2 linked regions of the Homo sapiens genome follow. The protein of the gene in region 1 purifies or fractionates together with the protein of each later gene. This does not show direct contact. Each region holds a gene or a part of one and is shown in the gene's direction. Other genes may lie near its edges. The genes, in order: FBLN2 and RSAD1.

What was found.
Region 2: the proteins of FBLN2 (region 1) and RSAD1 purify together in Homo sapiens (co-immunoprecipitation; 2 studies listed by BioGRID and IntAct, with this or other methods). This does not show direct contact.

The regions. Positions count from the first base shown.
Region 1 is NC_000003.12:13,566,102-13,573,379, forward strand, and holds part of FBLN2 (fibulin-2 isoform a precursor), read left to right. Parts: intron 1-2,638; exon of another isoform or gene 2,639-2,979; intron 2,980-4,213; 5' UTR 4,214-4,254; coding exon 4,255-5,560; intron 5,561-7,278. UniProt on the Homo sapiens protein: Its binding to fibronectin and some other ligands is calcium dependent. May act as an adapter that mediates the interaction between FBN1 and ELN.
Region 2 is NC_000017.11:50,481,855-50,486,747, forward strand, and holds the end of RSAD1 (radical S-adenosyl methionine domain-containing protein 1, mitochondrial precursor), read left to right. Parts: intron 1-236; coding exon 237-602; intron 603-788; coding exon 789-852; intron 853-1,485; coding exon 1,486-1,633; intron 1,634-1,851; coding exon 1,852-1,906; intron 1,907-2,587; coding exon 2,588-2,691; exon of another isoform or gene 2,692-2,788; intron 2,789-2,889; coding exon 2,890-3,007; 3' UTR 3,008-4,120; downstream 4,121-4,893.

The DNA.
Region 1 (7,278 bases):
TGTTTGCTGGCCAGGCTCTGACTGCTGGGACTGTCCCCCCGCAGGGAGGTCAGGCCTCCTTCCCCACCCCATCTCCAGGGGCTTCTTTTTTCAGGTTGCTGAGGGGTGGGAGCTGTCTGCAGAAGCCGGGGTTGTGGGAAAACTCAGCTGGAGCTCCCAGGAGGGGCATGTTTGATTCTGTGACCCTGCAGTGTAGAGACTGTGCCCTCCTGCTTCTCTCTTGTACGAGTGTCCCCAGCCCTGCTTGCTTATCTCTGGCGATAGATAGGGAGCTCACTCCTTCCCAGCAGCCTGGTCAGTCCCTGCCCTGGAGGGAGTGTTCTCCACTTGGAGCTGACATCTGCCATCTCCTCCATGCCCCCACCTCCCGCCCCACACATACACGCCCCATTGGGAGCAGCTGTGGAGATGTGAGGACAGTGAGGTCTGCTATTCTCCCAGGTGAGCCACCCCAAGGGGCCTGGGCCCCCTCACCACGTGGGCCACTCCCTCTCGACACATCCCAGATGGTCCTTTCCCCTCCTGAGTGGACATACAACCATCAGACAGCACCAGGATACTCTGAGCTGCATGCATTTGGGGGGGCCCAGACGACTTGGGGAACCTGGGAGCTCACACCCCATGTGACATCTCAGGGTGGCCAGAGCTCTGTGGCTTGAAACAGGAGTTGGAAACCTGAATTTTTATGTGAACGTTTTCAATTTATGCATGCTGGTAACCAATTTAAAATGAGAAACCCACTGTGTGAGCCAAACGAAAGCACTTATGGGCCAGATAATGCTGGTGGGCCCCCGACTATGACCTGAGGTATGGTGGAACACGTTCACTGGGTGGATGCAGAACCAGGGCTCAGAGAGGGCCAGGGCCGTGCCTGGGGTTGCGCAGCAAATGTGGAAAATGCAGAGTCAGGCTTGGGCCTGATGTTCTTTATCATTGCCCTGGGCCTGGAGTGGGGAGATGGGCAAGCCTGAGGTTTGGGATTGCTTAAGCATGGACAGAATGTGATGCTGGGGGCCTGGGGGGCCAAGGGGCCAGGTCACCCTGGGGGCTGTGCCGGTGAGCAGAGCAAGGGGATGGACTTGGTGGACCGGGTGGTGGGGCAGGGTGGGCTGGGAAGGAAGTTCTTCTGGAAGAAGTTCTAGGACAGCCCTGTGTCCTGTGGCTGGGGTACTGTCCTCTCAGGACACAACGTTCATGCCTAGGTGTGTGATGCACCTGAAGGCAGGAGGGCAGGGAGCTTGGGTCTCAGTTCACCAAAGATTTCCTTTTGTTTTGAGACGGGGTCTCCCTCTGTTCCCCAGGATGGAGTGCAGTGGCACGATCTCGGCTCACTCCAACCTCCGCCTCCGGGGTTCAAGCAGTTCTCCTGCCTCATCCTCCTGAGTTGCTGGGATTACAGGCACACGCCATCATGCCTGGCTAATTTTTGTATTTCTGGTAGAGACAGGGTTTCACCACGTTGGCCAGGCTGGTCTCGAACTCCTGACCTCAAGTGATCCGCCTGTCTTGGCCTCCCAAAGTGCTGGGATTACAGGCGTGAGCCACCTCGCCTGGCCAAAGATTTCCTTTCTTAAAAGACACTGTCAGCTGGCACGGTGGCTCATGCCTGTAATCCCAGCACTGTAGGAGGCTGAGGCAGGAGGGTCGCTTGAGGTCAAGAGTTCAAGACCAATCTGGGCAACACAGTGAGACCCTTGTTAAAAAAAATTAGCTGGGTGTAGTGGTGTGTGCCTGTAGTTCCACCTACTCAGAAGGCTGAGGTGGGAAGATCGCTTGAGCTCGGGAGGTTGAGGCTGCGATGAGCTATGATCACACAACTGTGCTCTAGCCTGGACAACAGAGTGAGACCCTGTCTCTAAAAACAAACAGAAAGAACTGTTGAGAGTGGACCTGAGGGCCTCTCCCTTGCAGTCTGGAGGGTCCTTGCTTTTGCTGACTGGGAGTAAAGGCCCTGATTCTCCCAGGGGCCCATTCCTAATGTCAGTGGCTTTACGGAGTCCTCCAGCTTCCTGAGGTGGCACCTCAGTGTGAGGGCAGGGGCGTCAGCCCTCGAGGCCCCAGAGGCTCCCTAGCACTCCGCCGGCCCTGAGCCTGGTCTGGGCATGGGCTTCCATCTCCCTGCCCGTCCATGGCCCTCCACCGCAGCCTTCCCTGCCTCGGTCACACAACTCCCCCTTCCAGGCGCTCCTGGACTTCTGTCTTCTGTCCGCTGCATCCTATCCATCAGCAAATCCTGTGGGTCCTACCTTCAAAATAGATCCCCTGTGCCACCATCTCCTGCCTCTCTTCGCTCACTGCCCTGGGCTCTCTCACCTGCTCCCTGCTGGCTCCCGTGTCTCAGCGCAGTGGGCAGCTGGGTGGGTCCCTTGCACTGGAGAGTCCCAGGCTCCAGCGCTTACAGGCACGCCCAGAGGCCCTCACAGCAGGCTGGAAGCCCGTTGCTCTGCAGTTACCACCCGTGTGCTGATGTGGCTCAGCCCTGGGGGCCCTCTCTGTCCTTCACCTTTCTGCTGCTGGTCCGGCCTCAGCCCCTTGGCCCTGCCACTCCCTGCCTGACGCCCTCCTCAGAGAAGCCCTCCTCTTCCGCCGGACTGACACGGGCTCCCCTGACACTGCCACGTCCTCCTTCCGTCTCCTTGATTCCCTTCATTTATTTCATCATGGGGCTCATGCCTGCCTGGCGTTCAGTTCTCTACAGATTTGCTCTTGGGTTTATTATCTGCCCCTCCACCCCTGAGGGTGTCAGTGCTGTGAGGACGCTGGGAACCTGTCTTGCTGGCTGATAAACCCCTGGTTCCTAGAGGGGCTGGGTGCAGAGGAGGCGTTCCTTTAGAAATGGGGCAGGCTTGGGGACCACTGCTGTGGTAACGAGTCCTGCTGTCCCTCTGTCACTGCCCTATGGGGCTGCGCTTTAGGCTGGGAGTCGGAGAAGGAGCTCTTGCCTGTGACTTTGGGGAGCACGCTGTCTATAAGAGTCAGGTACGGCCACTGGGTCACAAGTGGGGCTACAGGCACTGGGGACTTGGGCCAGGGTGGAGGAGGGAGGAGGCATGAGGACTGGTGAGAAGGTGGCATTTGAGTGGCTTGTGCAAGATGAGAGGGGAGAAGAGCCCTTGGGGGAGTTCAGGCCTAAGGGCCTGTGGGAGGGTCGGGTTGGGATGGCTCCTGCAGGGCCTTGAGTGCCAGGCTCAGCTGGGAATCCAGACCTTTCCTTTCTGGCCATGGGAAACTGGGGCGGGCTGTGGGGCCGTGGCATGTCGGGGCCAGCTGCTCTCAGGCCAGACTGGGTTCCCTGGGAAAGGGGAGGAGTGGTGGGCAGGGAGGTGGCGGGGCTGTTCCAGTGGAGATCAGAGCTGAGACTGGAGTGGGGACAGGGCCTAGAGATGGAAGGAAGGGGTAGAGACCGTGGGGAGGGAGTGGAGACAGATTGCGGGGAGAATGGACATGACTGGGGGAGTTGGTGGGGTGTTAGGGACAGCAAGGCATCAGGATGCATTTGCCAGTGCTACTGGGGAGGGGGACAGGAGCGTCCCCTGGGGCTAAGCCTGCAGTCCCGAGGGTCTCAGAGGTGTGTTCCTGAGTCCTAGGGTCTGCGGGCTGGGGCTGTAGGGGGCGTCTTGTTCTTGCCTAGCATTTCCCCACTGACTGTATTTTCTGGCCAGCAGCTGTGGTGCGTGGCTGGGGACTGAGTCAAGGATCTGGGGGGAGGGATTGGTCGGGTGTGTGCGTGGGACTGTGCGTGTGAGACCGCCCAGGGTGTGTACTGGCACGTGGGCATGCTGTGGGTGAGACAGCGTGTGTAACTGCATAGAGGATTATGGGGCATATTGCCTGACGTGCCCTGGTGAGTGTGACCGAGTGGGTGTGGGGCTGTGCATGTGTGTGTGTGGGCACGAGGGCTCACTCAGAGGACCTGCCTCAGAATGCAGGTGAGGATGGAGGATGGAGTGGCCCAGCAAACACGTGTGGGGCTGTCAGCGACTCCAGGTCAACACCTGTGGCGCCCAGCGACTAGACACTCACCTGTGTGTGATCTGACCCATGTGTGGCGGAGCCTGTGTGTGTGTGTGAGGCAGTGCTTAGTGTGCTCCTGGGGATGAGCGCATGCGTGTGAGGTGGCTGAGGCTGGGCCCCTGCCCGCGTGCGTGCCGGTGTGCACCGTGTCTGTGTGTGCACACCCAGTACTGACAGGCTTCCTTTCTGATTCCCCCAGGGTCTTACAGGAGAGGGGACCGTCCTGGGCTGGCCTGGACCATGGTGCTGCTCTGGGAGCCTGCAGGAGCCTGGCTTGCTCTGGGCCTGGCCCTGGCCCTGGGCCCCAGCGTGGCCGCAGCTGCCCCTCGGCAGGACTGCACGGGCGTGGAGTGCCCGCCGCTGGAGAACTGCATTGAGGAGGCGCTGGAGCCGGGTGCCTGCTGTGCCACGTGTGTGCAGCAGGGCTGCGCCTGCGAGGGCTACCAGTACTATGACTGCCTACAGGGTGGCTTCGTGCGCGGCCGCGTGCCCGCCGGTCAGTCCTATTTTGTGGACTTCGGGAGCACTGAGTGCTCCTGCCCACCAGGCGGCGGCAAGATCAGCTGCCAGTTCATGCTGTGCCCGGAGCTGCCGCCCAACTGCATCGAGGCTGTAGTGGTGGCTGACAGCTGCCCACAGTGCGGCCAGGTGGGCTGCGTCCACGCGGGCCACAAGTACGCCGCTGGCCACACTGTTCACCTGCCGCCCTGCCGGGCCTGCCACTGCCCTGACGCCGGTGGAGAGCTCATCTGCTACCAGCTCCCCGGTTGCCACGGGAACTTCTCAGATGCCGAGGAGGGTGACCCCGAGCGACACTACGAAGACCCCTACAGCTATGACCAGGAGGTGGCCGAGGTGGAAGCAGCAACAGCCCTGGGGGGTGAGGTCCAGGCGGGTGCAGTCCAGGCAGGCGCAGGGGGCCCCCCAGCTGCTCTGGGAGGTGGGAGTCAGCCACTGTCCACCATCCAGGCACCCCCCTGGCCAGCTGTCCTCCCCAGGCCCACAGCGGCTGCTGCCCTGGGTCCCCCAGCCCCAGTGCAGGCCAAAGCTAGGAGAGTGACCGAGGACAGTGAGGAGGAAGAAGAGGAGGAGGAGGAGAGAGAGGAAATGGCTGTCACTGAGCAGCTGGCAGCAGGTGGCCACAGGGGGCTGGATGGGCTGCCCACTACAGCCCCAGCTGGACCCAGTCTTCCTATCCAGGAGGAGAGGGCAGAAGCTGGGGCAAGGGCAGAAGCTGGGGCAAGGCCTGAAGAGAACCTCATCCTGGATGCCCAAGCCACGTCCCGCAGCACTGGGCCGGAGGGCGTGACGCATGCACCGAGCCTGGGCAAGGCTGCTCTCGTCCCAACTCAGGCCGTGCCTGGCTCTCCCAGGGACCCAGTCAAGCCCAGCCCCCACAACATCCTGTCCACATCACTGCCTGATGCAGCCTGGATCCCACCCACCCGAGAAGTGCCCAGGAAGCCGCAAGTTCTGCCCCATTCCCACGTGGAGGAGGACACAGACCCCAACTCTGTCCATTCTATCCCCAGAAGTAGCCCTGAAGGTAAGACCCTGTCCTGGTTCCTTCAGGGCACTTTGTGTGGGAAGGGCAGCCTTGGGCTCTGGCCGCTGCCCCAGGTCTCTGCCTGGGGCTGGGGATGCTGGACTGTGGGGCCAGGCCTAGGGTGGCCACCCCAGGCCCTTGGTTTGGGCAGGAGGCTGTGAGAGTGCATCTTCTCCCAGGCCCAGCTCTTGGGATGGGATGGGTGGGTGGGAGTGGGGTTCCTGTTGTGGGAGGTGCTGGGCCCCCTGGTAGGGCTGCGGTAGTGGTCAAGGGTCCAGAAGGTGCACATCTTCAGAGCTGGGGGCCCTGAGGAGGGTTCCTGCCTCAGCCCGGTAGGCCCCCACGTGTCCTGGCAGGAAATGCGAAGGGCGGTCTCTTCTCAGCTGCCCCGGTGGCTGGCCTGTGGCCTAGGAGCCTAGCATGGCCACCTCTGCCAATTTTTCAACAAATGTCAGCCAGAAAGCTGAATTTTATGTGACATCTTCCCATTTCTAAGTGTCTGCAGCAAATCCTAATCTCACAAGCATGTGTTGTAGAAAGAAGTGAACTCGTGGACAGAGGCGAGGTGGGTGGGCCATTTGAGCAGGGGCGCTGGCCATGCTGGGCCAGTGGAGGTGGTGGGGCCACACCAGCTGTACCCTCACTCCATGGAGGCCCCTCTCCGAGCTGGTCAGGCAGCTTCCCATCAGTCCTTCCAGCAGCACCGAGTGCTTACTACTATGTACGCTGTTTCACCAGTGAGGCAACTGGGGCTCGAGGGTGGTGCTGGAGGCTCAGGTCACACAACCAGTGAGCAGTGGGCCTGGAAGGCCCTGGAGCCTGCACTCCTGACCCTATATCCTCCAAGCCACCTGCCACAGAGTTCAATACACTCCATCGGGCACATCAGAGCAGGCAGCCAGGACCAGGGCACCCAGGCTTCAGATAGGGACCGGCCCAAGGCTGTGCAGAGGCTGGTAGGCGGCCCAGGCCTCTTCTTGCCCATCCATGCCTGCTCCCAGCAGGTCCTCCATAGCCCAGCACAGTCAGACACCCCATTTGAAGACCCCATGAGCTGTGGCGAGAAGGGGAATGGTCCGCTGAGCCTACCTAAGAGCCGTCCTCAAAGGGCGCTGCTGCTAAGCAGGGGCCACAGCCCCCACGAGGCTGACCCCTTCCTGCTTACTTTAGGAGCCTTGAACTCCTGCAGGGGGTGATTCTGTCACAAGAGCTGGGGGCTTGCAGATCCAGAAGCCTGGTCTAGCTTCCATGGGGACCTGGGGTGATGCTCCTAAGACCCCACGCAGGTTTGAAACCCCCGTGGGCCAACACTGGAGAGGAGAGGCTTCAGGAGTCCTCTAGCAAACAGGTTAATCTGGGTGGATAACCCTGTGCTGCCACAGCCTAGGGAATCTGGGGGCCTCACAGACCCACAGACATTGGAAAGGCCCAGAGCTCCGTCAGTGTGAGAGGGGACAGCCCCGCACCTGGGGGGAGCGCCTCAAACACAAATCAGATCATGCCACCTTCTGCCCTATATGGCTCCCTCCGGCCGGCCCCTCCCCAGCCTCTTCTCACACCAGTCAGAGCTTCCTTTCAATCAAGTTCAATTCCCTCTGGCTAAGGGGCCTTTGCACGTGCTGTTTCCCCCGCCTGGAGCACCCCCTTCTCACCACTGCCCACTTATCACCTCATCCTCTACATTGCAGCTCAAGTGGAAGCTCAAGACTCCCTGCAGG
Region 2 (4,893 bases), on another chromosome or scaffold:
AATAGAACTAATATTGGAGGGTTACAAAGATTAAATTAGACACTACATAAAGGTGCTTGGCACATAGCGACCCTTCTGTGAATGGCAGCTCTTGGTGCCAGCTTGACCTTCCCCCTCCTGCCTTCCAGCTGCCTGCCACGTGCTGCGTTCTCCCTGTATCTGTGTCTACAATGGGGAGGAGGGTTCTTGTCTCTCTCTGAGCTGCTGGTATGCTTACACCCACCCTCTTTTCCCAGTCCCTAGATGACACTGAGCTCCGGCTGTTGGGACGGACGCACTCGGCCTGCGATGCTCTGCGGACGCTGGCAGAGGCCCGGCGCCTCTTTCCCGGGCGCGTGTCTGTAGACTTGATGCTGGGGCTGCCGGCACAGCAGGTGGGGCCGTGGCTTGGGCAGCTGCAGGAACTGCTGCACCACTGTGATGACCACCTCTCCCTCTACCAGCTGTCCCTGGAGCGGGGCACCGCACTCTTCGCCCAGGTGCAGCGGGGTGCCCTTCCAGCCCCTGACCCGGAGCTCGCAGCTGAGATGTACCAGAGGGGCCGGGCTGTCCTTCGGGAGGCTGGCTTCCACCAGTATGAGGTCTCCAACTTTGCCCGGAATGTAAGTTCTGGGGCTGATGGCTGGAGGTGGAGGATGGGCAGACTGCAGTGTGACCAGGGCGTTGTGACCTTCTGAAGAGAAGGATCCTGGCCGAGATGGTGGGACATTCTAACCTGGGGCCCCTTACCTGAGTCTAAAAATGAGGCCTGCCCTCTTCACTCTGCACTATTTCCTCCCTCCCCGCAGGGGGCGCTCAGTACCCACAATTGGACTTACTGGCAGTGTGGTCAGTACCTTGGCGTTGGGCCTGGTGAGTCCCGTGAACTACAGAAAGGGTGACTCAGGAGAGGAATGTCGTGGCTGTGTGAACTTGGGCCACATTAACCTCTCCAAGCCTCTATTTTCTCATATGTAAAATGTGGCAAAAAATAATACCTCCCTATAGAACTGTTGAGCATGAATTATAAGGGGCTTAATGTTGCACCTTGCACTAGGGTTCTCAGCCTTTAGTGTGTATGAGAATCTCCTGGAGGGCTTGTTAAAACCCAAGCTGCTGGGCCCCACCCTCAGAATTCCCAATTGGACAGGGCTAGAGGAGAGCCCAAGAATTTATATGTCTTGGCATTTTGGGATAGATGATTAAAAAAAAAAGAAAAAGAAAAAAGGGCCTGGTGTCATGTGCCTCTAATCTGAGCTACTTGGGAAGCTGAGGTGGAAAGATCGTTTGACCCCAGGCGTCCAAGACCAGCCTGGGCAGTATAGTGAGACACCACCTCAAAAAAAAAAAAAAAAAAAAGAAAGAAAGAAAGAAAGAAAAGAAAAGAAAAATAATTTATATTTCCAGTATGTTAGAGGCAGTTGCTCCAGGGACCACATGATTTAAATCTGGTAAACACATAGTATTAACAGCCATTAATGTGGGGATGGTTGTTGATGTTGTCAGGGGCCCATGGACGATTTATGCCCCAGGGGGCTGGAGGCCACACCCGGGAGGCTCGGATCCAGACACTGGAGCCTGACAACTGGATGAAGGAGGTGATGCTGTTTGGCCATGGCACCCGGAAGCGTGTCCCCCTGGGCAGGCTGGAGCTGTGAGCATCCAAGGGCACAGGGCTCTCCTCCAGGATCCCCACACCCCAAGACCATGTCTATTTGTATATCTTTTATTTCCTGTCTTGTCCTGGCCCCTGCCTTGCCACATACTGTATGGTCCCTGTTAGCCTCCTCTAAATGCATCCCAGTGTAGAATTTGGAGAATGGGAGGAGCACAGGCCTCCTCTCTAAGACTCCTTGGTGATTTTTCTTTGAGGCTGGAGGAAGTTTTGGCCCTGGGGCTACGCACCGATGTGGGGATCACTCACCAGGTAAGGAGTTAGGATTCTTGCACACCACTCCCTCCTAAAGTCTTGCAGAATCAATGCCCCCTCCCTGCCACCCCCCCCACACACATATACCTCCAATTTCTGTGAGATTGGCAGCTAGAAGTGGGGCCCAGGTCCAGCTGAGGCCTGATGGGCAGAAGCAGTGAGCAGTGGTGCATAGCTAAGAACCCTAGACCAGGGCTGCAGAGACCCAAGTTCCAGCCCTCATTTTACTGCAACCTTGGACACAAATCCTTTCACCTCTCTTAACCTCAATTTTCTGAGCTCTGTGAAGCAATAGATAGATAAAGGGTTTCCACTTGTTTTTAGGGAGCACTGAAACCTCTCATAGGAAGCACAGTAGATAATTATCAAGCAAATCCAGAGCTGCTCTGGATAAAGCAGAGCCATAAAGCCCTGGCTAGAGCTGGCTGAGAGGGGAGGGAAGAGAGGAGGCATAGAGGAAGGCCTGGCTTGGCTGGAAGCTGGGTTCCAGTCTCAGTGGAATAGGAGTGAAGCTGCCCTCCTCCCTGCTGGCCCATTGGCCTGGTTCTGCTTTCATGCATGTCAGCTGCTGAGATCTCCATGCTGAACTGGACCCTCCCCCACCTCTCACCATACCCCAACTATGTGGCCCAGAGTAGCCAGGCCAGCTCCCCACCTCTGACCCTCTGGCTTCCCCAGCACTGGCAGCAGTTTGAGCCCCAGCTGACCCTGTGGGATGTGTTTGGAGCGAACAAGGAGGTGCAGGAGCTGCTGGAGCGGGGCCTACTGCAGCTGGATCACAGGTGTGTTGGGGGGTGCCGGGCAGAGGGGGCTGAGGCATACCAGGGAGCCCTGACTACAGCTCTCCACAGACCCAGGAGAAGTGAGAAAGACTGACTGGTAAGGCGGGACCTGCGGGTGCTGGGAGCTCGGCCCTGCTGGGTGATGGGCTTGAAATTGGTAAGATGAAGTAGTCACCTTCAGGCCTCTTGGTTTTCCAGGGGTCTTCGGTGTTCCTGGGAGGGTCTGGCTGTGCTGGACTCTCTCTTGCTGACCCTCCTGCCTCAGCTCCAAGAAGCCTGGCAGCAGAGAACCCCCTCCCCTGTGCCAGGAGGATGACAAAAATGTTCCTGTGTTCCAGGGTAATGCCAGGTGGGTTTTGAGAGCTGGGTCGGTACTGCAGACATCTCTTCTCCGTTGTCGGGTGCCGTCTCTGCTCCTTGTGGTTATTGCTCAGCCCTGGCATCCCCAGGGGAATGGCAGCAGTGAGGTAGATGGGAGGACATTTCTGGTCAGGGAACTGGCATCCCATTCAGCATCTCAGGACTCACAGGCCAACATGTGTTCCATGGCTGGGAATTGCCTACCACCCACATCAGCTTCTGTTTACCTTTTTGGCATCAAATAATGAACAGTGTTTGGAAATCTTTCTACAGGCAATTACCTCCCCAAGAGAAGCCTTCCTTATTTTGGAGTAAGGTCCTAAGATAGCTGGATGAATCAGGAAAACCATGTCCCCTCTAGGTATTATTAATATAAGCAGGAAGGGATCTACTATAGGAATGAAGTATTTATAAACCACTGAAAGGGATAGAGAAGTGAACATTGGAGAAAGCCAGTAGCAACTGTGAGAAATCAGCAACTTGCAGGAGGCACAGAAAACTCCTGCTGATGGTCTCAGCTTCCAGCAGCACAAAAGCAGATGATGTACTGGAAAATGCTCAGAAGATGCTACAAAACCTCATGCCTACTGTCTGCCACTGCTGGAGAAGGAATCATGGTTTCTAGAAGTGCCTCTCATTAGTGGACTTTAAAGCAAATCCTGGCTGGCAGGAAATTCTGAGGAATATAGCTCTTAGGCTTCCAGCCTCTACCATGCAGGAGAGAACACAGAAGGACTGATGTATGTTGGTGGATCCATGTATGTGTCCAGCACAGCGGCCTGCTGGACTCTGAGAACTGGGAAAGATCAGAGCAAGCCTTGCCTCTTATCTTCGGGAAACCAGAATATGTTTGGGGTGGTAGGAGCCACACAGACTCTTCTGAGCCCCCTCACTCACTTCCTTCCCCCTGTGCCTTTCCTTTGAGAGTGAAGGTGGGTGGAGTTGACCAGAGAAAGGGGAGAGAATTCGGGAAAGACCCAAAGTGTTTGTAATTCTTCTTTGTCCTTTTACCTACAGAAATGGTCACATGGTTCTATTTAAATAGCCTAATAAACACATCTGGAGCCTGTCTTGACTGTGGTCCTCTCCTTTGAGCTCCTTCCTAGAGCGTGGAATCCTGATTTTGGGACTAGAACCTTAGCCTAGGGCTGAGATTCCTTCCCCCGCTCCCTACATTTTATTTTGAAGGATTTCAGACCTACAGAAAAGATAAAAGAATAGTTCATTGGAAGCCATATATCCTTTGTCTACTATGTAACTATAAAGTCTGGAAATAGGCAAATATTCATAATGCCATCAAGAACATCTTCAATCTATTGAAAAATATGATAGGCCAGATGGGGTGGTGCATGCCTATAATCCCAGCACTTGGGGAGGCCAAGACGGGAGAATCACTTGAGCCCAAGGGTTTGAGGCCAACCTGGGCAACATAGCAAGACTCTGCTTCCAAAAAAAAAAAAAAAAAAGTTTCCATACTTTGTGGTTACCCTATAGATTCATCAATTGTTAATTTTTGGCCACATTTACTTCATCTTTAGATAAATATGTCTGTATAATTTTTTTTCTGAATAATTTAAAAGTTGTAGACATCAGGCCAGGTGCAGTGACTCACACCTATAATCCCAGCACTTTGGGAGGCCGAGGCAGGTGGATCACTTAAGGTCAAGAGTTCAAGACCTGCCTGGCCAACATGGCAACACCCCTTCTCTACAAAAAAGAAAAAAAAATACAAAAATTAGCCAGGCGTGGTGGCACGCACCTGTAGTCCCAGCTACTCGAGAGGCTGAGGCAGGAGAATCGCTTGAACCTGGGAGGTGAAGGTTGCAGTGAGCTGAGATTGTG